Linked DNA regions of Homo sapiens: region 2 is linked to region 1. The links come from fine-mapping of genetic effects on gene expression. A gene starts in region 1. The other region holds a variant in brackets. All regions are shown on one strand. Distances are between the middles of the regions.

The links. PIP is the estimated chance that this variant, and not a neighbour inherited with it, causes the effect.
Region 2: its variant is fine-mapped to the expression of ZNF280B in lung (TOPMed, PIP above 0.99).

Annotation. Positions count from the first base shown.
Region 1 is chr22:22,501,088-22,517,449 of GRCh38, forward strand. ZNF280B (zinc finger protein 280B) reads right to left here and starts at 7,655. Exons shown (of 4, transcript NM_080764.4): 1 at 7,572-7,655; 2 at 6,723-6,783. ZNF280A (zinc finger protein 280A) reads right to left here. Exons shown (of 2, transcript NM_080740.5): 2 at 12,649-14,614. The coding sequence starts at 14,543. The coding sequence ends at 12,915. It also overlaps IGL.
Region 2 is chr22:22,426,090-22,442,451 of GRCh38, forward strand. It overlaps IGL, the pseudogene IGLVI-38, IGLV5-37 and IGLV1-36. Among named protein-coding and RNA genes, the nearest start is that of ZNF280B, 74 kb to the right of the region's middle. The variant G/A (reference allele first, on the strand shown) is at 6,598.

The DNA of each region.
Region 1 (16,362 bases):
AAGGGCTAGGGGCAGAGGAAAAGGGTGAGTCTGTTGTTTAATGGGCATTGTTTCAGTTCTGCAAGATGAAAAAGTTCTAGAGATCTGTTTCACATCAATGCTTGAAACTACTGAACTATTAATTTAGAAATGGTTAAGGTGGTAAATTATATGCGTTTTTACCACAATAAAACAATTCATTTTAAAAACAGGCCCCAATCGGCATGGTGGCTCACGTCTATAATCCCAGCACTCTGGGAGGCCAAGGTGGGAGAATCACTTACAGTCAGGAGTTTGAGACCAGCCTGGCCAACATAGCAAAACCCTGTCTCTACTAAAAATACAAAAATTAGCCGGCATGGTGGCACGCGCCTGTAATCGCAGCTACTCGAGAGGCTGAGGCAGGAAGAATCACTTGAATCCAGGAGGCAGAGGTTACAGTGAGCCGAGATCATGCCACCACACTCCAGCCTGGGCGACAGAGTGAGACTCTGTTAAAAAAATAAAATAAAATAAAAAATAAAAAATAAGCTAGACACAGTGGCTCATGCCTGTAATCCCAACACTTTGGAAGGCTGAGATGGGAGGATCGCTTGAGCCCAAGAGTTGAAGATCAGTCCAAGCAATGTAGTGAGACCCCTTCTCTACAAAAAATTTAAAAACACAGGCACAGTGGCTCATACCTGTAATCCCAGTATTTTGGGAGGCTGAGGCAGGAGGACTTAGTCAGCTCAGGAATTCCAGACCAGCTTGTACAACATAGTGAGACCCTACCTCTACAAAAAATTAAAAAATTAACCGGGCGTGGTAGAGTGTGCCCGTGATCACATCACTGCACTACAACCTTGGTGCCAGAGCAAGACTGTCTCAAGAAAAAAAAAAAATTTAAATTTAGCTGGGCATCATGGCACACGCCTGTAGTCCCAGCTACTCAGGGGTGGAATGAGGCAGGGTGGCAGCTGAGATGGGAGGATCACTGGAGCCTGGGAGGTTGATGTTGCAGTGGGCCATAATTGTGTCACTGTACTGCAGCCTGGGCAACAGAGCGAGACCCTGTCTCAAAAACAAACAATAAAAAATGGGCGAAGGATTTGAACACTTCTCCAAAGATACACAAATGGCCAAGCAGCACATGAAATGCTGCTCAATATAGTCATTAAGGAAATGCAAATCAAAATCACAATGAGCTATTACTTCACATCCACTAGGTTAGTTATAAGCAAAAACAATCTCAAGCGTTGCAGAGGATGTGCAGCTATCTGAACCCTCAAATACTGCTGGTGATAATATAAACTTGTACTTTGGAAAAGTTTGGCAATTGCTCAAAATTTAAATATGGCGTTACCATATGACCCAACAATATCACTCCTAGGTATATACCCAAGAGAATTGAAAATATAACACATATATAAGCTAGCTGGAATATAGCCATAATGCTGCTACAAAGTGCAAACAACCGAATGTAAATTAATTGATAAATGAATAAACGAACTGTGGTATATCCGTACAATGAAATACTATTCAGCCATAAAAAAACTAAGTACAAACAAGCATACAATACGGTGTACCTTGAAAATACACTAAGTGAATAACACCAGACACAAAAGGCCGCATATTTTATTATTTTACTTATACAAAATGTCCAGAATAAGGCAAATTCATACAGACAGAAATAAAGTAGCAGCTGCCATGGGCTCGATGAAGAAGAATGAAAGGAATATAGCAGGTTTGAAAAATGGCCCCCAAAATATCAGGTCCTAATCCCTTAAGCCTGTAAATGATACCTTATTTGGAAAAAGGATCTTTGCAGATGGGAAAATTATCCTGGACTATACAGGTGGGCCCTAAATGCCACCACAAATGTCCTTGTAAGAGAAGCAGAGGGAGATTTCACACATACTCTAGGAAAAGGTGATGTGAAGACAGAAGCAAAGATTAGAGTGACATGGTCACAAGCCAAAGAACGTCACATCCACAAACTAGAAGATGCAAAGAATGGATTCTCCGCTAGAGTTTCCCAGGGGAGGACAGCCCTGCCAACATCTTGATTTAGGTCTTGTGAAACTTATTTTAGACTTCTGACCTCCCGAACTAAGGGAGAATAAATTTTTGTTGTTTTATGCCACCAAGTTTGTGATAATTTGTTATAGCAGCTATGGAAAAGTAATATAGGGAGTGACTGCTAATGGATACAAGGTTTCTTTAGAGTTGATGAAATGTCTTGGAATTAGATATTGCTGATGGTTGTACAATTTTGTAAGTATATAATACTAAAAACCATTCAATTTCACACCGCAAAGGGTGAATTTTATGGCATATGAACTATATTTCAAAGAAAAACAAATGCCTAGTAACAGGCTGGTATAACCCCCCATCTCCCAACAACTGCTGCTAAATTTTCAAAGCACCATTAAGCAGACTCAATTCGTAGCAAGGATAATGGAACAATGCAAGCTCATCTAGCGAACAAAAAGAATTAAGCTAGTATCAGGTGGTCAATTTACAAACTGTAGTGGGAGTCATACATTCCCAAGGATGGAACAGTTATATCTCCTTGCAGAGTGAACTCTTCTCCGATACCAAGGACTTGGAAGACCAAATAAATTATACGTAGGATTACCAAATATGCTGGTATGACCAAGACAGTTATAGTTTAAACTTCTATCTCTGTGGAATTATGGATAGTGCCACTCTTCAATCTTTAATAAGTCCTTCAGTTTAGATGATAAATTACATAGTCAACCTAGTTATAAGGAATCTAGAGGTTGTGAAAAGCTGTGAGAGCATATTCTATGCAGACCACATAGGTCCTATCATGACTCCCTATGTAACTTGGGTCTCTGCGACTGGGAAGCTCCCAGGGAAAAAACCCCAGTTAAGACTTCTGCAGAGCATTCACATTTTGTTTCAAACTTATACAACACTAATGCTAAAGCTCAACTCTCAGAATTGTATTATTCAGTATTATCCAAATAACTGATTAATTTACACACTGAAGGGAAAGAACAAGGAATGGACCTAAACACACTTGTAGTTTACAAGTATAAGAAGCTAACAAAGAATAAGATTAAAATAACTTGTGCCAGGCCGGGCATGGTGGCTCACGCCTGTAATCCCAGCACTTTGGGAGGCTGAGGCAGGTGGCTCACGAGGCCAGGAGTTTCAGACCAGCCTGAACAACATGGTGAAACCCCATCTCTACTAAAAATACAAAAACTTAGCTGAGCGTGGTGGCACACGCCTGTAATCCCAGCTACTCAGGAGGCAGGAGAATTGCTTGAACCCGGGAGGCAGAGGTTGCAGTGAGCTGAGATTGTGCCACTGCACTCCGGCCTGGACAACACAGCAAGACTCCGTCTGAAAAAAAAAAAAAACAAACAAACAACTTGTGCCCACATTAACTAGGTGTTAAAAGCCAAAAGGTGAAAGTCACTATTCTCTTTTCACATATCAAATTGACCCTAAGGTAATATTGCTGCATTAGAACTGAGCTGGTGGGAGGGATGTTAAGAAATTAGGGAGAAATTGTTAATCTACAGAAAGACCATCATATAAGGTTCTGTGTGTAGCCAAACATACACATTTGATGTTCTGATGTTTGCTATTTTAGTGGAACTATAGCTATAAAATGTATTCAATCAGTAGAATTAAAACATATCCCAGTCCACAAAAAACTAAGAGAGAAATTATACAGGAATGATCAAGAATCTGCACAGTTCTCATAATCTCATTACTACAGAGAAAAGGAGAAAGGGAAGCATCAAGGTAGTATTTGAGACGAATTTAAGAAGACCACTCATTCAATAAAAGTTTGGTGGGCCAACAAGGTGCCATGTATTGGTCTGGTGATATAGCAGTGATCCAAAGTCTTTCACTTCAGGGAGCTGACATTCCAGAAGGGGTAGTCAGAAAATAATTTTTTTAACAAAAGTAACATGGTTATATAAACACTAGGGAGAAAAATAAAGTAGGAAATGGAGGCAGGTTGATACTCACATAACATGAATATGGCTATCTGGGGAAGAATACTCCAACAAAGGGAACAGCAAACACAAAGCCTCTGAGACTGGAGCACTTAACACATGCAAGGACTGATCAATAGGCTAACACAGGTGGACCAATGAAAAGAGTGACAAGTTAGAAATGAGATAAAAAATGAGCTGTTTGTGGCAAAGGAAAGCCAAGATCATGTAGGCCATTCTAAATTCTTCAGCTTTGGCCAGGTGTGGTGGCTCACATCTGTAATCCCAACACTTTGGGAGGCCGAGGCGGGTGGATCACCTGAGGTCAGAAGTTCGAGACCGGCCTGGCCAACATGGTGAAACCCCGTCTCTACTAAAAATACAAAACGTAGCCAAGTGTGCTGGCACGTGCCTGTAGTCCCAGCTACTCGGGAGGCTGAGGCAGGAGAATTGCTTGAACCCAGAAGACAGAGGCTGCGGTGTGCTGAGATCATGCCACTGCACTCCAGCCTGGGTGGCAGAGCAAGACTCCATCTCAAAAAAATAAATAAAAATAAAAATAAAATAATAATAATACAAAAATTAGCTGGGTGTGGTGGCGGGCACCTGTAATCCCAGCTACTTGGGAGGCTGAGGAGGAGAATCACTTGAACCCAGGAAGCAGAGGTTGCAGTGAGCCGAGACTGCGCCATTGCACTCCAGCCTGGGTGACAGAGCGAAACTCCATCTCAAAAAATAAGTACATAAATAGACAAAAAATAAAAACAAATTCTTCAGATTTTACCCTGAGTGTGATGAGAGATTACTGGAAGGCTCTGAGTGAGAAGTAATATGATCTCACTCATTTCATTAGGATTGCTGTGGCTACTGTGTGGAGAATAGACTTTAGAGAGTAATAGTGGAAGCAGAAGACAAGAAGCTACTGAAATATTATGAACAAAAGATGATGGTAGTATCAGACAGGATGGAGAAATAGAGATACTAAGAAGTCGGACTCTAGATAAAAATCTAGAAGGCCCACAAGGTTCATTGATGGATTGGGTTTGGGATGTGAAGGAGAGGAGGAGGACACACAAGAGGTAATGCTGAGCAGGTAAATCTATGAGATCAGAGCCCAAGGAAAGTTCCGAGGTAGGTACTTAAATTTTGAAGTCTTCAGTATGTAGCATTATTTAAAACACAAGACTGGATGAGATCACTCAGGGAAAAGAGGTCTGAGATCTAAGCTCTGGAGCATTCCATTGATTAGAGGTCATGGAGATGAGAAGGAGCTGGTAAAGGAAATTAAAAAAAAAACAATTATTCACAGCCATTCAGGTGGGAGGAGAATTGAGAAAGAGAAGCATCCCAGAATCCAATGGGGAGGAGAAAAGGAACTGTAATATATGCTGCCAATAGATCAAATAAAATCACGAAAATCAACTAAAACTGACCAATGGATTAAGCAAAGTGGAATTCATTGGTGACCTTGACAGCAGTGGGTTTAAGGAAGAACGAGAACAGGAGATAGCAAATACGGACAACTCTGGAGAAATTTTCCTGTAAGGACAAGCAAATACAAATTAAAACAAGCAGATGGGAGATGTGGCATCAAAAACGAGATCTTTAAGGTGAGGTGATGGTACAATCAGTATGTTTGCTATATTAATGATCTGGAGAGATAGAAAACTTAACCCTAGACAAAGAGAAGTCTTGCTAGAATAATATCCTTAAATAAACAAGTGCACATGTAGAGGTTCTGGCCTTAGCAAGAAGTCAAATTATTCACCCAGAGTAACAGGACAATGCTTTGAGATCCTATGGAAAAGGGTTAAATGGTGGATAAATGGTTGCGGTGGCCATCCTCCAAGATGGCCCTAAATGAATCCCACTTCCTGGAATTCACATAGTTGTAGCCCTCTCCCACTAACAGGGTTGGCCTGTGGGATCAAGCACATACAGCAGGAAGTGATGGTATGCCACTTCAGAAATTAGGTCATAAAGACTCTGCCCTTCATCTTGGGTACAAGGTCTCTTGAATCATTTGCTCTGAAGTAAGCCAGCTGCTGTGACATGAACAGCCCCATGGAGAGGCCCACAGAGCAAGGAACTGAGGCCTCTTGCCAACAGCCCAGTGAGTGAGCTTAGAGGCAGATGATCCAAACCAAGTCAATTCCGCAGAGACTGACAATCCAGCCAAGGGTTTCACTGAAACCTCATGAGTGACCTTGAGCCAGAAACAGCCAGCTAAGCCACTCTTGGATTCCAGACCTTCAAAAACTATGAGGTAATAAATTTTTTTTTAAACTACTAAGTTTTGAGACAATTTGTTACACGGCAATAGATAACTAATACAATGGGTCTCACTGAGCTGTAATCACAAATTGCTGGGCACACAATTCACTATAATCTCACCTACTGGCATGCAATGACTTCAGATGACCTCCCCTGTCCTGCTGCATGCAGTTACCTCATGAAATACAGTCGCTGAGAAAGAGGGTAGGATAAAAGGAGTCAGCTTTATATAACTTAACATCCCTGATGCTCTTTTTTTTTTTTTCAAGAGATGTGGTAAAAGAATGCCACTACCACCCTCTCCTTTCTCAACAAAGCAATTTAGAGGGTTCCCGAATGACCTACATCAACAATTGGCCTGAACTAATCAAACACATCATTCAGATTCCCTCAGTAAAATATTGAATACCAAACAGCTATGTTTCAGCAAAGGAAAGGGCAGGGGAGCGAAACTGAAGGACGAAAATACAACTTTGGTCCTCATCAGGGAGACTTCTCTTTTCTTACCTCAGGTTTATTACAACGCAACTTTTAAGAACTTGAGCTATTCCAGGCAGAAGGTCACATCCTTGAGGTAACCAGAGAGAAGCATTAGTTACTTACATGTCACAAGAATATTTTCGATCCCACTGCCTGACATTGCCATTTAGGTGTTTATCAATCATCTCACACTTAACCAGATAAGTGAACTGAACTCCTTTCCCCCAGATCTGTTCCTCCAATCTACCCTACCTTAGCAAAGGAAAACGTCCCACCCGCCAACTGCCCAAATCAAAAGCCTGCAAATCACCCGAGGTCCTGGCTCTCACGGGAGGGACTCCATTAGGGTCCCAGGGGCTGCATTAAGAGTCCCGACAGCGACGCAGTAAATGAGACAAGACGCTGCGGTAGGGGAGAGAGACCCATACATTCAAATGCCTTAAGGGGTCTGGGCCTACAGGTCTCCAGAACTGGGGAGGGCCTGGGGTTACAAAGCAGTTTTCAGATTTTTAAATACATTGAGCGCCAAAAGAGACCCCGCGGGGGCGATGGGGGAGGGGAGCGCACTGGGAGCCAGGAAAGGCCCCTTCTCCAGGAGGCCCGGGCCCAGCCCGGGGGTGGGGGCGTCTGCGTGAGGGAGTGGAGGCTGATGTAAAAGTGGCGCCCGCTGAGATTAGGGAAGGGGGTGTGCGTGAGGGGATCGTGGGACCTGCTTCTGCCCTGCACTCCCCCACAGAAAGCGGCTGTATTGCAAAGGCCGCTCCGGCAGCGCACGGCCAAGCGCGGTGTCGCGACCCGCAGGGCTGCGGCTCGCCATGAAATCCCTCAAGTCTCCCCTCAGGGAACGCTGAAGCCGCGCCACGCCCCCGTCCTTACCAGTCCGGATCAGCTGCTGTTCGCGAGCTGCCGGCCACGCACCAGCCCCGGAGGCGCTCCCGGGGCACAGCCGGCGGCGACTACGCCTCCTCAGGCCCCCGGCGCCGCCGACGCGCACGCCTCCACACGCGCGCGTCCAGTGGAGACCTGCGATTGGCTGCCAGGTGCCGGCGCGAGATCGGCGCGGCTCCGAGCTAGGAGCATGCGCGCGCTCTGACGCCCCTGGTGGCGACGGCTGGACGCGGGGTTAAATTGAGAAGGAGGAGGGCAGCAGCAATACCCCTGAGGCCTTGAAAGGATCTTGGGTTCCGGATCACGGTTCCAGGCAGTCAGGGTTCCAGAGCTGAGGGGGTATCCAAGCAGTCAGGGTTCCAGAGCTGAGGAGCATCCAGGCAGTCAGGGTTCCAGAGCTGAGGGGCACCCAGGCAGTCAGGGTTCCAGAGCTGTCGCAGCCAGGGCTTGGGGTGGGGGGTAGGCTTCCAGTCCATCAGGGGATGGTTTGCCCACCAGAAGGCCAGCTGTTATAATTCTCAGGTGTGGTCCCTTTGTTGACTATCCATGCTTAAGGGATTGTGAGGAAACAACTGAACCTAACATCTGTCCTCTTCTAGTTACATCTGGGGCCAGTTGAATCCAGCCTGCCACCTGTTTTTGTACAGCTGGCAGCAAGCTAAGAACCGATTTCACGTTTTTTTAATGGCTAAAAAGAGAATATTTTGTGGCATGTGAAAATTATATGAAATTCAAAATTCAGTGTCCATAAATAAAGTTTTATTGGAACAACAAACATGCCCATTCCTTTCGGTATTATTTATGCCTGTTTTCCTGCTTCAACAGCAAAGTTGATTAATTGCCAGAGACCATGTATGAAAAGCTTAAAATATTTACTGTCTGGCCCTTTACAGAAAGTTTGCCCACTCAGTTTACTTGCAGCTTTGATTTTTTTTTTGAATTGACCAATTCTGCCAAAAGTCTATTTTAGCAATCTTTTTGGGGGGCGGGTAAATCGCTTTTGGTTTAATTAATCTATAATGTTATTTTCTTATCTATTTTATCTATTTCTTCCATTCTGTTATTTTCTTCCTTCGTGACTTCATAGGCTTGTTCTGTTACTTCTCATTACAACTTTTGGAGAAAAATGCCTACCTCGTTTGCTTGTAAACTTTTTTGTTTCTCTTGTATTTAATGCTATAAATTTACCTTTAAGTACCAGTTTAACTGTGTCTCACCAGTCCGCTTGGTAATATGTTCATTATCCTTCAATTAGATATGTCCTAATTTTGCTAGTTGTTAGAAATGCTTGTTCCCTGGTGCCGCAAAGAAATAGCACTTGAACATAAATTTAATTTTCTCAGCAAGGCCATTTTCACTTTCTGCAGAAAGGGTACACTCGCCAGCAGTTTTGCCACGAGAGTACCCCAAACAAAGGATACAGGGTTATTTATAACCTGACGCATCCACCCTACTGCTGTGTCCGGTTTCCATTGGCTGGAACAGGACCTCACATTCTGTGTTTGTCCCGATTGGCTAACAACTTAGAACTTTCTAAAAGAGGCAAAGGCAGAGGAGAACAAAGGAAGGAGGATGTAACTTGTAGAATGCTGAGAAAGGTAAAAACACCTCCAAATAGGAAGAGGAACAGGCTATGACCTAATGCTTGCTTGGACCAGTATAAGCATGCAAGGGCAAATATTTAGGCTAAATTGTGGGAGCTAAGAACACAAAGTATATTAATTTCTTTATTACGGCTAGCAGATATCTAAGAATGTTAGCACAGGTCTTTGAATAAATTTTACTTCTAAGAGAAGTTACTATTTATTCGTAATTAGACAGGGAGGAAAGTCTTTGAAGAGGAACCTCTATTTTTTACATAGTGATTCTTTCTAACACAAGGGTTATATAGTATATGTTATTTATTTTTGAAATCTATGAGATTTTTAAAAGATTTTTTAATTGTATTATAATCAAATCACATGGCCTAAATATTACTCACCCTTGCATTTGAAGATTTCTGTTCAGTGAAGTGTACCATAGTCAAAATGAAGAGATCATAGATGTAAAGAAGATATTTGCAGTATCTAAAATGTATATATGAGGCTGATATGTAAAGATATTTGCATTATCTAAAATGTATATATGAGGCTGATATGTAAAGAAGATATTTGCAATATCTAAAATGTACGTAAGAGGCCTGGCACGGTGGCTCACACCTGTAATCCCAGCATTTTTGGAGACCAAGGCAGGCAGATCACTTGAGGTCAGGAGTTCAAGACCAGCCTGGCCAACATGGTGAAACCCCATTTTTGTACAAAAAATACAAAAATTAGCTGGGTGTGGTGGCACGCGCCTGTAGTCCTAGCTACTCGGGAGGCTGAGGCATGAGAACTGTTTGAACCTGGGAGGCAGAGGTTGCAGTGAGCTGAGATTGCACCACTGTACTCCAGCCTTGGGCAACAGAGCGAGACTCCGTCTCAAAAAATAATAACATGAAAAATAAATCTATGAGAAATGATCTTCTTTTGGCTTCATAATAATTCCAATGTCCATCAGTAAATTAGTATCAACTAAGCTCCAGGCTTTATTCAAATGTCACTAGTTTTTCCCATCATCCTTTTTGTTCCAGATTCCCACCCAGGATACTGAATTGTACTTGGTCATTTTGTGTTCTTAGCCTTCTGTGGTCTGTGACAGTTTCTTAAACTTTTCTTGCTTTTCATGACCTTGACAATTTTAAGAAGTAAAGGTCAGGTATTTTTCAGAGTGTCTCTCAATTTAGGTTTGATGTTTTTCTCATGGTTACACTGGGGTTATGGTTTTTAGAAGACTATCACAGACATGATGTGTCTTTCTCATAATTTCTCATCAGCGATCCATGCTATCAATAAGACTTCCTACTGGCTTCTCCGCTGTAAATTACTTCCCCCCCCTTTCATACCTTATTCTAAATCTTGCCTACATGCAGGAAGGCCGTGAGGTCTCATTGAAGGAAAATTATCTACACAAGTTACTTTGCAATTCTTCTTTAAGGAAGATTTGTCTCTTCTTCCTTTAGTTTTAAATTAATCAAAAATAGCTTTTTAGTTTTAAATTAATCAAAAATAAAATAAAAAATTTAGTACCTCAGTCATACTTGCCACATTTCAACAGATCAATAGTCACCTGTAGCATATTGGACAGAGCAGAAGTAGAGCATTTTCATCATTGCAGAAAGATCTACGGACAGCACTGACTTAGATCATTAGTCAACCTTTCTTCTTCCCAAATATATGCATTTAGAAATATAAATTCCCATGAAATGCTTTAGTTCCATCCCATAAATTTTGTGGCTGTTTTCAATATCTTTCAGTTCAACATTTTCCTTTTTTCACTGCAATTTCTTAGAGGAGCTATGGGTTATTCAGAATGAGGACCAGGACTGGGGTGAGATAAGCAAGGAGGCTGAGGCACATTAAGGAGAGACCCACGCCCAGCTTCAGGTATGGCATATTGTCACCTTAGGTTCCCTGCTTGCCTCACCCTAGTCCCAGCCCTGTTTAGAAATGTATTGCCTAATTTAGGAACTTTGGGTTTTTTTTCAGTGATCTTTCTGTTACTGATTTGTAAGTTGATTCCCGTGTACTCAGTGGGTAACTACAAAGAGCCCCACAGCTAACATCACAATTAAAGTAAACTATTCTACCTGAGTTTGAGACCAAGAAAAGCACACCCATGAAAGCCACTTCAATTCGCAAAGCATTTGGAATAGCCAAGGCAATTTTGAACACCAAAGTTGGAGAAATGAAACTACCACACGGAGGATTATGCAAAGCTACAATAATTAAGATACTGCAGCATTAGCACAAGGATAGAGAACAGGACAAATGAAATGAAATAGATTCCAGAAACACATATATACAATCATACCTGATTCACAGTTTCCACGGCAATACAGTAGGGAAGGAGTGGTCTTTTTAGTAAGTGGTGCTGATTGATTTTGGGTATGTATATGAAAAAATTAGTCTTCATGCCTTATCACACCATTAACAAAAAATCAGTTTGAGATGTCTCATCAAAACAGTAAAGCTTCTAGAACATAGAAGGAATATCTTTATGTCGTTTGTAGACAATTTCTTAAATAAGACTCATGAAAGATAAACCATAAAACCACGATTTAGATCCAAATATGGGACATTTCCAGTGCCCCAGCACCCTTCCCAGTCGACAGCCCAGTTTTTAAAAAGGTAGGAGGGGGCAAAACTTGAATAGACATTTAATAAAAAGAAATACTCACGTGGCCGATAACTATATAATCTCAAGGTCCATTAATCATCAGGGAAGTGCAAATTAAAGCCACAATAAGGTACCACTACAATTTCAAGAGAAGGGCACTTACTAAAAGGACTGACAGTACCAAGTGCTGGATCAGTAGCAATGGAATTCGCAGTATCGGTGGTGGGAATGTAAATCGTTTCAATCACTCTGGAAATGTATTTGGCAGTATCTACACTAGACAGCTAAATATATGCAGTTCCAGCACTTCTCATAGCTATATATACCCACGAGAAATGATTACATGCTTACCAAAAGACACGCACAAGCTCATAGCAGCTTTATTCAAAATTGCCAAAGAATCAGCCTCAAAGTCCATCAACAGTGAAATAAATTTATACAAAACTGCCACAGTCACTCAACAAAATTCTACCCAGCAATGAAAAAGAATGTGCTACTGCTACACACAGCAAAAATGCATCTCACTTATTTTATTTCATTTTACTTTATTTTGAGACAGTCATGCTCTGTCACCCAGGCTGGAGGGCAGTGGCGCGATCTCAGCTCAGTGCAAACTCCCCCCTCCCAGGTTCAAGCGATTCTCCTGCCTCAGCCTCCCGAGTAGCTGGGACTACAGGCGCCCACCACCACGCTTGGCTAATTTTTCTATTTTATGCAGAGAAGGGGTTTCACTATGTTGGCCAGCCTGGTCTCAAACTTCTGACCCCAAGTGATCCACCCACCTCAGTCTCCCAAAGTGCTGGGATTACAGGCATGAGCCATCACACCCAGCCATCTCACTTATTTTAAAAAGCCAAAGACAAGAATCTTTGTGTGATTCCATTTATTTAAAGTTCATGAACAAGAAAAACCTCTGAGGTCAGAATAAGGGATGCCCTGTTGGGAGCATTTGACTGGGAAAGGGCTCAAAGACTTTGGAGCTACTTCTTGACAATAGGGAGCTGATGAGATGTCACTGTAAAAAACAACCTGACAGTTGATGACATTGCTTGCTAGCATCTACAGCCACAATGCACATATGGCCTAGCCTCACTTCTGCCTTTCGGAACTCCTGGAAGTCAGTCGAACATATTTTCAGCTAGAATCCTTGCTGCAAGGGAGTCTGGAATCTCTAGTGTTCATAGCCGTCTTCTTTTTAGTTTTTACAGGAGAAGACTGAGGGTCAGTGTTGCTAACAATAACGGAAGCCATACCACTTGATCCTGGCTGAACTGAAGTTTGAATAATAACTTTTGTTTCACTAGGCAACCCTTGCAGTTGCTCCGGCTTTTTAAATGTTTGATGGTCCTTGGTTTTGTGCTCTATTTCCTCCTTCAACGTCAAAAACTGTAGCCGGCACTTGGAACACTGAAGGACCCTCCTTCTGCTGTGCCTCCAACAATGATTCATGTATGGTATTGCAGTTTTGAAAAGTTTGAGACAAAACAGACAAAGCAAATTCTTTGTGTTTTCATGGCACGTTCTAAAATGTGTTTCCACATCAGCAAAGACCGACGATCTGTAATGGCAAACCTGGCACACATAAGGCATTTCGCCAGGCTTATGATGGTCCTTCATGTGTTGTAAGAGGACCTGATCTGTTTCAAATGACAATTCACAGATTTTACAGACAGCAGAGGGCCCCATGGCGATGTGTACACTATCAATGTGACACTGTAGCTGGAAGGGAGTGGGAAACTGCCGGTGGCAGTGCTGGCAGGTGGTGTGGTCTTCCCAGCTGTCGTTCCTCTGCTTCTCAAATTCCAAATGATGCTTCATGTGATTCATAAACTTAATATTTTTTAGAACTTTCACGCAGCTGAGGCATTTAAAGGTGGTGTGAGTCTTCTGTTCCGGCTGCCCATCTCCTTTATGCTGTCCATAGTAAAAGTCGCTAAGTAACACGATGGGATTTTCTTTCTTGGGATCAAAGGTCTTGTTTTGACTTGCTAGACTTGAAATGTCTGTCATTGCCAGGGCAGACTCACTTGCTCTCTCTGGATCTGTAAGATTGAAATGTGCCTTTCCATTAGCATCAGGCCAAGGAAATGTTACTCCATTCTGAACATGGTTTGATGAGTTGCAGATCCCCTGTGAGGGTGTATTTGTGCTTATTGTAGAAGACATATCTGAAGGGACCACAGCTAAAGAAGGTACCCCTGGGATTCCATCCCTGAGTTTAACCCTTTTGGAATCTCTGCTGTTTATATCTGAAGTGGAAAGTCGCTTTGAATCAGGAGAACTCTCATTTCTGCCTCCTCCAGAGACCATAGCTCCAACTAGACACTGAGTCCCTGGGGGGAGCGAGTCTGAGGAACTGGGAGAAACAACTTGTGGTGAGCTCATTTTATAACCAGGTTCAGATGAAGACTTCATAGTGACAGGACTATCTGTCGATCGCCCCTCAGACAGAGAAACCGGCATGATGGCTTTTGCCATAGAGGTCACATGATTTGCAGGCTGCGACACGTGAGCAGGATATTGACGGAAGTGGCCTTTCTTTCTTCTTGAATTTGAGCCTGGGGTGACTCTGTTCAAAATGTTTGAAACGACTGGTTTTGAATTTGAAATCATCCCGACAAAGAGAACTTCAGCATCTCTATGTACATGCTCCACCCCAACATAGATCAGATCTGGATCTTCATCATCCTCCTCCCTTTGTTTGGATTCTCTCAAATTCTTCTTTGGTGATTCCACTTTCTTACACAAAAAGATATCTCCCATTTTCAATTTACTTTTTGCTTGAAGCCACTGGTCTCTTCAACTTCCAGAGCTGTCTTTTTACAAATTGCCACCTAAGTGCAACCATGTGACAATAGTCAATATTTATTTCGAAAGACAAAATCATTACTTTATTGTATCCTCCCTTAAAACACTGAGATAACCATCAACATCTCTATTTTACACGTCAGAAATGAGGCTTGAAACATTTTAAATGGCATAATAATTTCAAATTTACCTGTCTCTCCTCCCCTGGTCTTCTGCAGTTGTGAGGCAAAGGAAGCAAGATTTCAGGAGGTGCAGATGGAACATCTCAGAGTGCTTGCCTCTAAATTTTGCACTCTAGATGCCTCACTCACCTCCTCCTCATCCCACAGGTACTCTCTCAGATGTCTAAGGTTTCTAACCAACTTGAACAAAACTTCTCTCAAAAACATTCTGCTCCTAGCCTGGGCAACATAGCAAGACCCCATCTCTACAAAAAAATTTAAAAATTAAAAAAAATTAGCTTGGCATGGTGGTACACACCTGTGGTCCCAGCTACTTGGGAGGCTGAGCCAAGAGGAACACTTGAGCCCAGGACTTCAAAGCTATGTTCATGCCACTGCACTCCAGCCTGGGCAACCAAATGAGACCCCATCACACAAACACACACACACACAAATCACAGCACACACACACACACACACCCTTTGCTGTTCCTGTAATGTTCCTTTTCTCAGTAAACTCAGTTGCTCAGTCTACAAACTTCAGAGTCATCCTTTGCCAGACTTTCTCTCATACACTACAGCCAATCAATTAGCAAAGCTAGTCTGCTCTATCTTTTAAAGATATCCAGAATCTGACTACTCTCTTCCACATCTACTGCCACCTCCCTGATGGAAGGTACCATGTTCTCTCCCTGGATCACTGCAGAAGTTGCCAGTCTTAAAAGTTTTGTCAGATCTCCCCATGGTGGCCCCAATGCCCCTGTTAAAATATACAGGGGAGCAAGTATATTTCGCTCTTAAGTCTTCAATGACTTTCCATTTCATTCATAGGAAATACCAGCAAACTTTAAATTTCCCCATGGAACCTTAGGTCATCATCGCCCTTGCTAACTCCTCTGTTGCTCTGATGCAGCCATCCTGAGCTCCGTGAATCTGGAACACAGCAGGCCTTTTTCTTTTTCAGAACTTTTGTTGTTCCCGGACGTTGCGTGCCTCTTTCCCCAGATTAACCCCATCTGGGCTCCTGGTCTGCCTCAGTCCCATGGTTCCTCTTCAGCAAGGCTTACCTGACCACAATATCAAAAATCACAACCTCCTTAACTCATATGTTCAAACCCTCAATGTTATTTTTCAACTTAGCATTTATCACTGCCTACCACACAATATGTAAAATATATCTTGCAAGCCCAGGAGTTTGAGATTACAGTGAGATATATCATGTCACTGCATCCAGCCTGGGTGACAGAGGAAAGGAAGACTCTGTGTCTTAAAACAACAACAAAAAATGGGACAGGTGCAGTGGCTCGTACCTGTAATCCCAACACTTTGTAAGGCCAAGGCGGAAGGATTGCTTGAGGTCAGGAGCTCGAGACCAGCCTGGGCAACATAGCAAGACCCATCTCTACAAAAAATTTAAAAATATAACTTGTTTCTTTTCTGTGTTTACCCACTAAACTGTATGCCACACGAGGGCAGGGAGTTGTGTTTCATTTACTCCTCAGCTTATAGAGCAATGTCTGTCATACTGTGCATGCTAAATCTTTGTTAAATAAATAGTAGCTGTTATTAATATGATCATTTAGGTGTACCAGAGGCTCTAATCCATTATTCCA
Region 2 (16,362 bases), 75 kb before region 1:
CTGGTACCAACAATGAACAGGAAGTGTCCTTAAACCTCTGATCTGTGGATGTAAATATCCACCTGCAGATCCAGAACTGATTCTTGAGTGATCAGTCTGGCAAGGAGGCCTTCCTGAGCATATCTGGGCTCCAGGCTGAGGACAAGGCTGATCATTAACGTTGGATTTGGACAGTTCTCTGGAGGCCCCCACGGTGCTGCAGTCTGTGGGGAAGTGAGATGGGAACATTTCAGGTCTCCTAGGAGCACGACCCGACAGCACCACCTACAACTGGGAAAACTGGGCTGTTTACCATTTGTGTTCATGTTTGCTTGGGCTGGTGCTAGCCAGGGCCCAGGTCTCAGGTCAGGGACAGTGATTTAGAGAATGCAGCTTTGTTTCCTCAGAGTCAGCCCTCAGAGAAAGCCCATAGCAACAGCATTGTCAAATTGCCTCAAAAAAAATCAGAAAGTCCTTGGTTCCTGGAACAGGCTGCCCTAGGAACAGAGCCCAAATCGGTCAGAGCAAGCAGGGACACAACTGTGCAGAAAACAACAAGTTTTACTTAGGGAGATAACGGTTGACTGTATAAAATGAGAAATATGTCACACTACTCACTTGTAAAAGTAAGTTTACCAATGCTATTCATTTCCCTATATCACTACGTTGAGTAAAAACTCTAAAATGTATGAAACCACTGTAGAGATAACTTTTGCTGAATTGCTACTTTAACATGTCATGGATCATTTATTTTTCTTGCAAAATTCTCATTATTCACCGTCCTTTTGAGTAACCCCCAGCTGCCCTTCAACCTAGCTCCTCAGCTGACCTCTTCTCCATGATGCCTACCCTGATGGCACATGTGGGCAGTTAGGTTTTTCTAGATTTTAAAAGTTATATATGTACATGTCTACATCCCATGGACCAAGACTCACTCTGGGAGTGAGAAATCACAATAATCATGCATAGCCTTATGGAATTAGTGTCTAGCAATCAGACCATAGAGGTGTGAATAGAGACAGTGACTAATGAGCTGCAGAGATCAGCTGGGCCATCAGGAGGTAAGTGTCCTCTAACCAGCATGGGATGCTGGGGGACTGCCCTATGGTCCCTACACAGCTGCTCAGTAAGGACCATTCACTCAAAGAAATCCAAGACTAGGGGCTAAGACCCCGTGCTCACTGAGGGGTACTTAGCATCTATGTCCTCCCATGGCATGGCAGAGTCCCCTGAGCAGGAAGGTGTGTATGGTTTCAGTAGGTGCTTTCTTCCGGAGCCCTCTCAAGGGGAAAAGCAAAACTTCTTCCTCCTCAGTCTGCAGTGTGAGCTGAGCTTCAGCCCCAGAGCTTAGAGAGGGGCTGGGCAGTCCCTGGATGAAAACACATTTGCATGAGCAGCCCCTCCTCTGCAGAGTATGGGAAGAAAAGGAGGCCTGGGGCAGCCCAGTCCCACTGTGCATGTCAGGCTGTGTCCACCATGGCCTGGACTCCTCTTCTTCTCTTGCTCCTCTCTCACTGCACAGGTAGGGACAGGCCTCAGAGATCAGGGCCAGCCACCCAACCTGATTCTGGCTCTTCTGGTAAAGATCCCTGAAAAACCTCACCCTGAACCCTGCCCATCAACCATGAGTGTCTGTGTTTGCAGGTTCCCTCTCCCAGCCTGTGCTGACTCAGCCACCTTCCTCCTCCGCATCTCCTGGAGAATCCGCCAGACTCACCTGCACCTTGCCCAGTGACATCAATGTTGGTAGCTACAACATATACTGGTACCAGCAGAAGCCAGGGAGCCCTCCCAGGTATCTCCTGTACTACTACTCAGACTCAGATAAGGGCCAGGGCTCTGGAGTCCCCAGCCGCTTCTCTGGATCCAAAGATGCTTCAGCCAATACAGGGATTTTACTCATCTCCGGGCTCCAGTCTGAGGATGAGGCTGACTATTACTGTATGATTTGGCCAAGCAATGCTTCTCACAGTGACACACACAGATGGGGAAGTGGGACAAAAACCTCACCCTGCTTTAGGTCTTGTTCTTAAAAAATTTTAAATTTTAAAATAACTGGCCTAGGCACAAACTACATTTGGAAGTACTTTCTAGTTGTAAAAGGCTCTTCTCTCAATTTCCCATCCATTCGTCTGAAGTCTCAGTAAAACAAAACAAAACCAAAGCAACTGATGACACTGAAGTCTTGGCTGGTTGTCATATGTGCTAACACCACTGCCTGTGGAGCTGGACTTTTGTTCTTGAAAGAAGCAAAATGAGGCTTTCCTAGCTCACATCATGGTCAGAGCCTGGGGACATCCTAGCAGGTGAACAGTGCCCTGCAGCATGGACTCTGCTCTTCCAGCGTACGGGCAGAGACCTCCCCTTCCATCCCCAGTAGTCTGTTCTCAGGGCTGTCTGTGGCTCACTGTGTCCCAGGAACAAGGCACTCAAATATGAAATGCTGCCTGAGGACACAGGTCAGGGAATTCTAGATATAGTGCTGACCTGGCTCAGTCCTGGGTACCTGCATTTCAGTGGCAATGTCAGGAGATGGGGTTAGGTATTAGGGTAACTGGGGACCTGAGACCAGTAAACCTCTATGTAGGACATGACAGGAGAGTCAAGGGGAGGCTCCACTGTGGCTGAGACAAGCCAGAGGCTGCTCCTTGGCCACGGGGGAAGTAGGTCCCATGGATGTGACTTTCCTGCAGCTCATCCCACTCAGGACCATGGGGACTGCTGAGCGTGGGTTTCTTGATCCCTCAGCGCCTGTGTTCTCTTCTCCTCTCTTACACCATTGGAGCTTCTTGCTGAATCAGGGTCTAGTGGTGAGTATGTGGAAAGACCACCACATCTCAAGGTCACCTTTTTCTGCATGGGGAGCAGCAGAAACATTGGGCATTCCCGTGGAAATGGCTACGGAGGCCTCCCAGAAAGAGCCCCCAAGTTTATGACCTAGGACAGCAGTGATGGTCCCTCAGGGGTCCCAGCCTCATTCTCCTGCTCTGGGTTTATCCACACAGCCTCCTGGAGCACCTCTCGGCTCCAGCCTGAGGACTGGCTGGTTATCAGTGTCACACAGCTGCATCCTGACTCCATGTTACCAAGGGTTCCTGTTCCATGTGGAAATGAGAGAAAGATCTCCCCACTCATCCTGTCTCCCCATCCCTCCTTTATCCCTGCCTGTGACCAACACCAGTTCATGCCAAGACTTCGGCTGTCACTTGTGTTACTGAAGCAGAGCACAAGTTCAGTAAAAATAATCCCTTTTCTTACTGGTCTCCCAATGCAAACAGAATCAATTTGTTTCTAGAAGCAAAAGGAGCTGCCCACACATGGTGGGTGGGGATGAGGTAGGGACAAGAAAGAATCCACCCTGTGTGACCCAGAGGCCCAGAAGCCTTTAGTCTGGTTCCAAAGGTGTCTCCTCCTCTTGGTGCAGTTATGCTGACCATTTCCTGAGCTCAGAAACTGTGCGAGAGATGCCAAGAATGAAGAATCCAGCCTGTGTGACCCAGAGACCCAAACGTGAGACAGGAAGTCTGATGCTTAAGAAAACGTGGGTTCAGCATTCTGAAAGGTCTAGATATGGCTTGGCCTAGAGCTGGTGTAGAAGAGAAGCAAGAGAGATGCTCAGCCTTAGGTGGCCCAGGCACAGCGGTCCTGTCAAGGGGTTGAGCTCTCTGCAACATGGATATCCTGCAGAGACATACTTGGGAGGCTGTGATCCCAGAATGACACAAAAATGCTAATGGAAATGAGCAGGGGATTGTTTATGGGGGAATGGGGAGACAGGTGTGGGATAAGATGTGGTAAGGAGAATGCAGCCTGAAGAGGAGACTGTCCATTGTGACTCATAGGAGGAGTAGGGCCGGGGCCTACAGTAGTGATAAAAGGAGGACCTGGAAGGACCTGGGCCCTGAAGACACACAGAGACTGGAGTTTTGGTCTGTCTGTGAGGGTCCCATGAGGATAAAAATCCATGGTCAGTGTCCTCTGTCCAGGGCTCACTGTCCCAGCTGTTGTCCCTCCTGGATCCTCTGGGTGTCCAGATTCCGTAGCTGTGGACCTGTTCTCCTCTCTGTCCTCAGCCTAAGAGCTGATGGGGCATCCACCAGGAAGCACATCTGTGGGCAGGGAGGGGGCCATGGGCAGCCTTGTCCTGTATGTGAGGCACTGCTCAGCCTCGGTGATCCCTGTTCATTAACGTGGGAGGAAAGGAAAACAAAATTCACTGTGAACATCTATGCATCATCAAAGAAAAAGCAATGAGCCAAACAGGAAGTGAAGCCCAGCTCTAATAGTTTGTTTCTACTTGGAAATAAATAAAACTTAATATGCCTGATGTGTTACGTAAATGCAATAAACATTTTTTGAAAGCTATAAAAATTATGTAAAGGAACATGGCTTACACTAAAAGGAACACTTAAAATAATGACACCCTTGAAATGCAATCCCAAAACACAGCATACATTTTATTTCAGTTCCATATATGGACTGGTTTTATTTAAATGTCTATATTAAATCTCACTATTCCATTTTTAAATGGAGCACTTAAAATCTCATTCTACGGCAACTGCCTGGTGATACATTCACCAGTGGAAATATCAACAAAACCATCCAGCTGTTTTCCTCCATCCCCATAGAATTCCCCAAACTAGTAATTATTAAGAGCCCAGGATGTATCATGCCAGAATTCATGCAGTCATAGGCATAACCTGTTTCATTTTTCATTCTGATCAACAGAATTACAATTTTTCTTAAGCTTGTTTTTAGCTTATTAGATTCTAGTTGTCATTACAGATCAAAGATAAATAATTTTCTATCATCCTTAAGCCACCCCCATAACACTCACTACTGAATTTGAACCATAATTTTTCCCTAAAAATCCTAGTTGGGGTGCTTGATGTTGAGAGCTAACACGTATCAGGCTCACCTGAGGACAGACTCTGGTTAAACCAAGTTAAAATTTTAATTCTTCCCATCTTCAAAGACTGAGCATCTTTGCTCTTTTTGTTCATAAGTGAAACACTCCAAAGTCATTTGCCAGGATCCCCTGCAGATGAGCATTTAGTGTACAGACTCCTAGGCAAGATCCCTGGTCACAGTATCCAGATGACTATGACTGCAAATCTGGGGAAGTAGAGGGAGAACAAAGATTTACCAGGAAAACCCTCTGGGAATTCCTCCCCAGGGAATCCTAGAGGAAAGAGCTCCCTTTCTCCTCAGCGCCACAGGATCCACAGAGGAAGGAGAGCTCTAGCCACCAGGAAGGAGCCACATGAGAGGAGAGGACCTGGTGTCCAACACAGGTGGGGAGGTGAGTCCATGGGGCTGGTCCCTGCTATGGGCTTGATCCTGACATAGGACTTTATGTAGATACCACCTGAGTCCTCTACAATGTACAGCCAAAGAGCCATGGAAAGATTCACTCCTGAGGAGTCTGAAGACTCCTCAGTAGAGCGTGAAGATAGCCCTGAAGTCACAGGGAGGAGACACAGACACCACTTGGCCTGCCTTGGACCTGAGAGAGGGGGCAGTGGACAGAATGGGGGGAGGAAGCCATGTATCTGAGAGGTTCTGGTCACCTTATCATAGAATGGTTTACCTTGATCTGGACACCAGAGGGCGCATGGGGATCATTCCTGAGAAGACAGGGGTGATCAGAGCAGAACCAGCCGCCTGCCCTGCCTGGTGTCCTCTGCTCAGGGCTCACAGCTGTGTCCTCCCCACCCCCTGGGACCACAAAGCTCCACCCCTGCCACCCCCTGACATCCTCAAGCCAAGGAGCCTGACCCAGGGCTCAGGGTGGGGTCACAAACCTGGGGGGGGTCTGATTTGCATGGATGGACTCTCCCCCTCTCAGAGTATGAAGAAAGGGAGAGATTTGGGGGAAGCTCAGCTTCAGCTGCGGGTAGAGAAGACAGGACTCAGGACAATCTCCAGCATGGCCTGGTCCCCTCTCTTCCTCACCCTCATCACTCACTGTGCAGGTGACAGGATGGGGACCAAGAGAGAGGCCCTGGGAAGCCCATGCGACCCTGCTTTCTCCTCTTGTCTCCTTTTGTCTCTTGTCAATCACCATGTCTGTGTCTCTCTCACTTCCAGGGTCCTGGGCCCAGTCTGTGCTGACTCAGCCACCCTCGGTGTCTGAAGCCCCCAGGCAGAGGGTCACCATCTCCTGTTCTGGAAGCAGCTCCAACATCGGAAATAATGCTGTAAACTGGTACCAGCAGCTCCCAGGAAAGGCTCCCAAACTCCTCATCTATTATGATGATCTGCTGCCCTCAGGGGTCTCTGACCGATTCTCTGGCTCCAAGTCTGGCACCTCAGCCTCCCTGGCCATCAGTGGGCTCCAGTCTGAGGATGAGGCTGATTATTACTGTGCAGCATGGGATGACAGCCTGAATGGTCCCACAGTGCTCCAGGCCCAGGGGGAACAGAGACAAGAACCCCCTTCCTTTTCTGCCAGGAGGGTGAGCCCCGGCTGCTGCTGCTCAGGCCTGGCCTGTGGCTTCTGCTGCTGCAGCTTCCCCCATGGGTCCAGGGATATCCAGGGCCCTGCCTGAGAGTGGAGGCTCCTCCTCCCCTGAGTCCTCAGAGTCAGGAACAGGGTGTCCAGAAAACAAAAGCAGG[G/A]TGTCCTGCTCCCTGTAGCTTGGGACACAGGGTCTCTGCACTGAAGTCCTGGGCTGAGGTGGCAGGTCCAGCTGTGTCATCACAGACCCACTTCTGTTGGGGAACCTGTGTCTCCATCATCCTACTTTTTCCATTTCCAGGAGTTTCCAGAGTGGTGTCTTCCTCCCCCTTCTCCTCAGTGTGAATCCCTGTGCTTCCTTTCTCTCCAGCCTATTCTTTTTTTAATAAAACTCCTTTCATGTAGGAATAATGCACATATAATAAGCCACCCATATTTACAATAGGGAATGAGACAAATTTTGGCATTTCTATGGATCCTTGAAAACATCACCACCACCGGGAGCTATACAACATACAACCTGTGACCAACCCCAATAGCTCCTCATGACCCTTGTCACCTCATTCCCTCCCCCAACACCCTCCTTGGAAGTTGCAGATCTGCCTCTGTCACTACTGTTTGGTTTCTCTTTTCTGGAATGTATCAGTGTTATCAAACATTATCTTCCCATTTGTTCAGGCTTCTTTCACTCTGCACACTTCTTTTGAGATTCTCGCTGTTGTTGCTGCATTGTACCCATCTCGTAGAGGGCTCCTTACTATCTTTGAAGGTCCTTAGGCCATTTTTTTCTGATTTTATTTATGTATTTATTTTAAAGTTTGAATTTATTGTGCATCCAAATCAAACTTTAGGGGCAATGTTCATCTAAGGTGACAGGACAGTCTGTGATGGCTTGTCGGGATTCTTGCTTCTTCATCTCTTGCTTCTGATTCTCTCTATAGTGGAAGAGGTTCTCGTCTTTCATTTATTTATATATTTATTTATTTACTGATTTATTTGGGTTTTTAAGGGTTTTAGTGATTTTTCTCTTTTTGGTTATTTTTCAATTTTTTTATTTTAATAGGTTTTTGGGGGACAAGTGTTGCTTTGTCACATAAATAAGTTCTTTAGTGGTGATTTCTGAGATTTTGGTGCACTCATCACCCAAGCAGTGTACACTGTACCCAATGAGTAGTCTTTTATTCTTCACCCCCCTCCTACCCTTTCTCCTGAGTCCCCAAAGTCCATTGTATCATTGTTATGCCTTTGTGTTCTCATAGCTTATCTCCCACTGATGAGTGAGAACATACAATGTTTTGTTTTCCATTCCTGAGTTACTGCACTTAGAATAACAGCATCCAGTTCCATCCAGGTCGCTGTGAATGCCATTATTTTGTTCCTTTTATGGCTGGGTAATATTCCATGGTATGTGTATGTATACATCACATTTGCTTTATCCACCTGTTGATTTATGGGCAGTTGGGCTGGTTCCATGCTTTTACAATTGTGCTGCTATAAACATGCGTGTGCAAGTATCTTTTTTGTATAACGACTTCTTTTTCTCTGGGTAGATACCTAGTCGTGAGATTGCTGGATCAAAGGGTACATCTATTTTTATTTCCTTGAGGAATCTCCACACTGTTTTCTGTAGTGACTGTACTAGTTTACCTTCCCACCACCAGTGTAAAAGTGTTTTGTTTTCACCACATCCATGCCAACATCTATTATTATTTTTATTTTTTGATTATGGCCATTTTTGTGGTAGTAAGGTGGTATCACATCGTGGTTTTGACTTGCATTTCCCTGATCATTAGCGATGTCAAACATTTTTCTATATGTCTTTTGTCCATTTGTATATCTTCTTTTGAAAATTGTTTATTCATGTCTTTAGTCCATCTTTTGATGGGACTGCTTATTTTTTTTCATAATTTGTTTGAGTTCTTTGTAGACTATAGACATTAGTCATTTGTTGGATGTATAGATTGTGAAGATTTGCTTCCACTCGGTGTGCTGTCTGTTAGCTCTGCTGATTCTTTTGCTGTGCAGAAGGTTTTTAGTTTAATTAAGTCCCATCTATTTATCTTTGTTCTTGTTGCATTTGCTTTTGGGTTCTTGGTCATGAAGTATTTGTCTAAAGTAATGTCTAGAAGGGTTTTTTTAATGTTATCTTCTAGAATTTTTACAGTTTCAGGCCTTAAATTTAAGTCTTTGATTCATCTTGGCTTGATTTTTGCATAAGGTGAGAGATGAAGATCCGGTTTTATTCCTCTACATTTGGCTTGCCAATTATCCCAGCACCATTTGTTCAATAGGATGTCCTTTTTCCACTTTATGTTTTTGTTTGCTTTGTTAAAGATCAGTTATTTGGCTCCATTTCTGGATTCTCTATTCTGTTCCTTTGGTCTACGTGCCCACTTTTGCACCAGTACCTTGCAGTTTTAGTGACTGTGAGTCAAATTATGCTAGAGTATAGTTTGAAGTTGGGTGATGTGATGCCTCCAGATTTGTTCCTTTTGCTTAGTCTTGCTTTGGCTATGCAGGTCTTTTTTGGTTTCATATGAATTTTAGGATTGTTTTTTCCAGTTCTGTAATGAATGATGGTGATATTTTGATGGGAACTGCATTGAATTTGTGGATTGCTTTTGGCACCATGATCATTTTCAACATATTGATTCTACCCATTCATGAGCGGGGGATGTGTGACATGATTTTTTCAGCAGTGTTTTGTAGTTTTCCTTGTAGAGGTCTTTCACCTCCTTGGTTGGGTATATTCCTAGGTGTATTTTTTTGCAGCTATTTGTAAAAAGGTTTGAGTTGTTGATTTGATTCTCAGCTTGTTCACTGTTATTGTATAACAGAGCTACTGATTTGTGTGCCTTACTTCTGTATCCTGAAACTTTGCTGTATTTATTTACCAGTTCTTTTTTTTTTTTTTTTTTTTTTTTGAGATGGAGTCTCGCTCTGTCGCCCAGGCTAGAGTGCAGTGGCGCAATCTCAGCTCACTGCAAGCTCCGCCTCCTGGGTTCACACCATTCTCCCACCTTAGCCTCCCGAGTAGCTGGGACTACAGGTGCCTGCCACCATGTCCGGCTAATTTTTTGTATTTTTAGTAGAGACGGGGTTTCACCGTGTTAGCCAGGATGGTCTCGATCTCCTGACTTTGTGATCCGCCTGCCTCGGCCTCCCAAAGTGCTGGGATTACAGGCGTGAGCCACCGTGCCTGGCCATTTATTTACCAGTTCTAGGAGATTTTTGGATGAGTCTTTAAGGTTTTCTAGGTATATGATCACATTATCTGCCAACAGCAACAGTTTCACTTCCTCTTTACCAATTTGGATGTCCTGGATTTGTTTCTCTTGTCTGATTGCTCTGGCTTAGACTTCCAGTACTATGTTGAATAGAAGTGGTGAAAGTGGGCATTCTTGTCTTGTTCCAGTTCTCAGGGGAATTGTTTCCAACTTTTTTTTCCTTTCAGTATAATGTTGACTATGGGTTTGAAAGAGTGGGCTTTTCTTACCATAAGGTATGTCTCTTCTATGTCAATTTTGCAAAGGCTTTTAACCATGAAGTGATGCTGGATTTTGCCAAGTGCTTTTTCTGCATGCATTGAGATAATCATGTGATTTTTGTTTTTAATGCTTTTTATGTGGTATATCACATTTATTGACTTGCATATGTTAAACCATCCCTGCATCCCTGGTATGAAACCCACTTGAACATGGTGGACTATGTTTTTGATAGCTGTTGGATTTGGTTAGCTAGTATTTCATTTATTATTTTTGCATCTATGTTCATCAGGGATATTGTTCTGTAGTTTTCTTGTTTTGTTATGTCCTTCCCTCATTTTGGTATGAGGGTGACACTGGCTACAAAGAATAATTTAGGAAGAATTTCCTCTTTCTCCTTCCTGTGAATTAGTGCATTAGTCAGGGTTTTCTAGATGGACAGAACTAATGGAATCTGTATATATATAGCATGATCACAACATCCCACAATAGGCTGTCTGCAGGCTAAGGAGCAAGGAGAGCCAGTCCGAGTTCCAAAACTGAAGAACTTGGAGTTCCATGTTTGAGGGCAGGAAGCATCAAGCATAGGAGAAAGTTGTAGGCTGGGAGCCTAGGCCCATCTCTCTTTTCATATTTTTCTGCCTGCTTATTTTCTAGCCATGCTGTTAGCTGATTAGATTGTTCCCACCCAGATTAAGGGTGGGCATGGCTTTCCCACCCACTGACTCAAATGCTAATCTCCTTTGGCAGCACCCTAACAGACACACCCAGGATCAATCCTTTTTATCCTTCAATCCAATCAAGTTGACACTCAGTATTACTCATCACAAGTCCACCCCTTGTCAACTTCAACCCATATATATCTTCTGAGATCATACATAATCTTCAAATAAAGACAATAATAAGGTCATAATGACACCTAACATAATACAACTATCATTCATACAAACAGAAACACATCAATCCCCAACCCAAATACTGTTACATAAAGTTAACGATACTTAAACGCTGATGTGAAGTCAATAAATCTTATGTCACATGATAAAGGAGAAAGGAAATAACATGAAGATATTTTCTTAGGACAAAGGTATACACGCACAAACATGTTTTTAACAAAAGAAGGAGGAAATACTCATGACAATTACACTCCTCGTTTCTGCAGCTGGCCATAGCTGGTATTGATGATTACTTTCTTCTACTATCCATTCTGTATTCTGTATTCCCTTTGCCTTCAGCAAGCACCTCAGCAGGTCGTGGATATTTTTCCAGATGGTGTGATCCAAATCTTCATTCCTGAAGCATCTGGTTCATTTGTAGTCCTGCCTGGATAGGGCTGTTTTAGTTTTCCATGGACCTTAATCACAGGGCATGATAATACTAAGAAATGCCCTAATGGATCTCCTGTATTCCATGCATACTCTTCCTTACCTCCGTTATGGAGTAGTAAACTGATTTCATCTTGATAGTCTGTCCCAAACACCCCAGCCAACACTGTAACTCCCTTCTTAGCCTGTTGACTTAAAGGTAGGAGGAGCCCAAAGTGTCCAGGTGGCAATCTTAACTTCCCCAGTTTAATGGAATCATTGATGTGTCTCCAAGTGGCAGTGTTCCTTCCTCTGGAACTAAATCCTCTAAGCCAGCAGAACATAATGTCGTGGGAACAGGAAGCAAAAATTTTGCTAGTGGATCACTAGGGGTGATGGTGAGTGCTGCCACTTCCACTTCCACCCCTTGATTCCTAGACTCATGAATCCTGGCTATGGGAGAAACAGTGCCATATATTGGATGCTGACTCAGAGCATACACGCCTTCTGGGGAACTTAGCCCCAGCACTGCAAAGTATTGTCACCTAGTTGACATTGTAATTGTGACTTCAAAAGGCCATTCCATTGTTCTATCAATCCAGCTGCTTCAGGATGATGGGAAACATGGTAAGACCAGTGAATTTTATGAGCATGAGCCCACTGCTGCACTTCTTTATGAATAAAGTGAGTGCCCTGGCGAGAACAATGCTATGTGGAATACCAGGATGGTGAATAAGGCATTCCATGAGTCCACGGAGGATGGTAGTCTTACAGGCAAACCCATATCTGGAATAAGTGTCTATATCAGTGAGGACAAACCTATGCCCTTCTCATAATGGAAGATTTCCAATATAATCAACCTTCTACCAGATAGCTGGCTGATCACCCCAAGGAATGGTGCCATATCAAGGGCTCAGTGTTGGTCTTTGCTGCTGGCAAATTGGGCACTCAGCATTAGCCATAGCTAGGTCACCCTTGGTGAGTGGAGAGCCAGTTCGAGTTCCAAAACTGAAGAACTTGGAGTATGATGTTCAAGGGCAGGAAGCATCCAGCACAGGATAAAGATATAGGTTGGGAGGGTAGGCCAGTCTCTCTTTTCACATTTTTCTGTCTGCTTATACTTTAGCCATGCTGGCAGCTGATTCGATTGTGCCCACACAGATTAAGGGTGGGTCTGCCTTTCCCAGCCCACTTACTCAAATGTTAATCTCTTTCAGCAACACCCTGAAAGACACACCCAGGATCAATACTTTGTATCCTTTAATCCAATCAAGTTGACACTCGGTATTAACCATCACAATTAATGTCATAGGATTAGTACTAATTCTTCTTTGAATGTCTGATAGAATTCAACTGTGAATCTGTCTGGTCCTGGCTTTATTTTGTTGATTTTTTTTAAATTACCATTTCAATCTTGCTGCTTGTTACTGGCCTGTTCAGAGTTTCTATATCTTCCTCATTTAATTTGGGAGGGTTGTATACATTCAGAAATTGATCCATCTCCTCTGGGCTTTCTAGTTTATGTGCATAGAGGTAATCAGAGTAGCCTTGAATAATCTTTTATATTTCTGTGGTATCAGTATTAATATCTTCTGTTTCATTTCTATTTGAGCTTATGTGGATCTTCTCCCTTTTCTTGGTTAATCTTGCTAATGGTCTATTAATTTTATTTATCTTTTCAAAGAACCAGTTTTTTGTTTCATTTGTTTTTTGCATTGCTTTTTGTTTCAATTTTATTTAGTTCTGGTCTAATCTTCGTTATTTCTTTTCTTCTGCTGGGTTTGGGTTTGCCTTGTTCTTGAGTCTCCATTTCCATGAGGTGTAACCTTAGATTGTCTATTTGTGCTCTTTCAGACTTTGTGATGTACGTATTTAATGCTAAACATTCCTCATAGCACTGCTTTTGCTGTATCCCAGAAGTTTTGATAGGTTGTATTAAGATTTACTACAACTGCAACCTTACTATTGACCAATAGCTTTTTAATTCCTGAGAGTGTGACCTCATTTATGCCCAAAAACAACTTTATGATTGCTTTTCATGCAGTAGGCCATGATTAGAGAGGGAGTGCTTGTGGCCTGGAGGTAGGGTTCTCCAATTTATCAAATAAAAACATTGGAGTGCAGTTAAATTTGAATTCGGTAAAACAATGACAAAGAATTAGTATGTGTATCTCCCACATGATATTGTTAAATTGAAATACAAATTTACCTGGGTGCGCTGTAGTTTATCTACCAACTCCTCACAGGCTTCGAGGCTTGGAAGAGGCAGTGTTGGGGCTGGTCTCCTCTTACTGATGCCAGGTCTATGAGCTGAACCTCAAAGGCAGAGTCTCTCTAACACAGCTACCCTCCAGTGAGCATGTTAGTTAGCACTAAATACACCATATACGATTTCCAATGAATAACACCTACTCACTTCCCTAATTCTTCTTTCTATTATTCTCCAAGTCTGCAGACTTAGGACCTCCCCAGGGGTTGCTGCAGCCAGAGCTCTGGATGAGGGACCTCATAAGTCTTTCAAAACCAGATGCAAGGGGACTACTCGGTCCCCACACAGTGAGGTTTAAGCCAGGGGTGCATAAGCAACATGTAAGAGACAGAAGAGCTCAGTATGGCTCTTATGGCTCTCCTTCTGTCCAGTGAGAAAACTCCAGGGTCCTTTTGATGCTGAAGGTGGGTGGGCTGAGAGTAGGAGGAGACCCACCCTGACAGCCCAGAGATTCCAGGACAAGACTTGGCAGCCTGAAAAGGGGCCACACTCTTGAGTGGGGAAGAAGGAGGCAACTCTGCTCACAGGCGTGCATTTCTGGTGGCTTCCCCTTTACCAAACTGGACTCCCTACTCTGATGTCTATCAGAGAATCTCCCTCAGTGAGACCAAGATCCCAGGACATTGCTAAAAACAGCAGCATGGACCAGACAGGTATGTCATGGTACAGGAATTCTTTGCAGAGCAATAAATACAACTGCAGCTTAAGAGGGGCCCTCATAGTCATAACTTTGGTGAAGAAGAAAATAGACAAAGGCAGGGAGAAACTGAAGGGCTCAATAGGTCTGAGACTGGGGCAGCACTGGGTGCTATAGGCTTGTCCTTGAGGGGCTGCAGATAATGACAGCTGGGAAGCCATCATCTGTTCACTGCTCACTGGGCTCAGCAGCTGTGTCCTCACAGGGAACCAGATTCAGCCAACCTGGCTTTCTCCACCCCACCTGGGAAATGTATTCCGGTGACTGTCTGGACTGAGGTTCTATGAAGGGGCTAGGAGACAAGAAGAGGGAGACAGGCTGGTTTGCATAAAGAAAGCATTGCACACCCTTTCCTTTCATCTAAAACTCATTAATGGAAACTCTGGGGCCATCCATAGAAGTCTAGCTGGTCTCCTAAATTTGGGAGTTATGAAGGATTCATTCCTGATCAATCTACAGGAAGGGCCATCAGCAGGAGGTGGTCAGAGTGAGGGAGAAACTGGCTTCCTTGAGAGACTCTTCAACACAACCACCAACTCTGGGGCAAATGGGGTGACTTGCTATAACAGTCATCCCAAACTACTCACAGGAACCTGAGCCTAGTCCCCTCACCTTATTGCTTCTGATTCTGGTCCATGCCTCTGTTTTCCCTGGACCCCTTGCCCATGTCTGAGTCCAGAGTGGCAGGGATGGTTCCATCCCAGTCAACATCTACAAAGAAGTCTACATCTACAGCTACTATGACTTGAAGCAGAGTCCACAGTTGTACCCAAGAGGGCCTCTTCAGCTCCCCCACCCCTTCACACAGGTGACCTCTACTGTAGGTCTGGTTGAGTGGCCCCTGGACCCTGGTGAACACAAGGTATTTATTCCTCTCTAACACCAGGTATATAGTGGAGCAGGTCTGGGTGGGTATAGAGCAGAGTGTCTCTTCCAAATGTAATGCAGTAAGACCCTGGCTACAGAAAATCATTTCACAAAACTCCACGCCCTTTCATGGTAAAAACACCCAATGAACTATGAATAGAATGAAACTACCTCAACACAGTAAAGACCATCTATGAAAATCCCACAGCTAGTGTTGGCCGGGCTGGTCTCCAGCTCCTAACCTCGAGTGATCCGCCAGCCTCGGCCTCCCGAGGTGCCGGGATTGCAGACGGAGTCTCGTTCACTCAGTGCTCAATGTTGCCCAGGCTGGAGTGCAGTGGCGTGATCTCGTCTAGCTACAACCTCCACCTCCCAGCCGCCTGCCTTGGCCTCCCAAAGTGCCGAGAGTACAGCCTCTGCCCGGCCGCCACCCCGTCTGGGAAGTGAGGAGCGTCTCTGCCTGGCCGCCCATCGTCTGGGATGTGAGGAGCCCCTCTGCCCGGCTGCCCAGTCTGGGAAGTTAGGAGCGCCTCTTCCCGGCCGCCATCCCATCTAAGAAGTGAGGAGTGTCTCTGCCCGGCAGCCCATCGTCTGAGATGTGCAGAGCGCCTCTGCCCCACCGCCCCGTCTGAGATGTGAGGAGCGCCTCTGCCCGGCCGCGACCCCGTCTGGGAGGTGAGGAGCGTCTCTGCCCGGCCACCCCGTCTGAGAAGTGAGGAGCCCCTCCGCCCGGCAGCCACCCCTTCTGGGAAGTGAGGAGCATCTCCGCCCAGCAGCCGCCCCGTCCGGGAGGGAGGTGGGGGGCCAGCCCCCGCCCAGCCAGCCGCCCCGTCCGGGAGGGAGGTGGGGGGTCAGCCCCCTGCCCGGCCAGCCACCCCGTCCGGGAGGGAGGTGGGGGGGCGCCTCTGCCTGGCCGCCCCTTCTGGGAAGTGAGGAGCCCCTCTGCCTGGCCACCACCCCGTCTGGGAGGTGTACCCAACAGCTCATTGAGAACGGGCCATGATGACAATGGCGGTTTTGTGGAATAGAAAAGGGGGAAAGGTGGAGAAAAGATAGAGAAATCAGATTGTTGCTGTGTCTGTGTAGAAAGTAGACATGGGAGACTTCATTTTGTTGTGTACTAAGAAAAATTCTTCTGCCTTGGGATGCTGTTGATCTATGACCTTACCCCCAACCCTGTGCTCTCTGAAACATGTGCTGTGTCCACTCAGGGTTAAATGGATTAAGGGCAGTGCAAGATGTGCTTTGTTAAACAGATGCTTGAAGGCAGCATGCTCGTTAAGAGTCATCACCACTCCCTAATC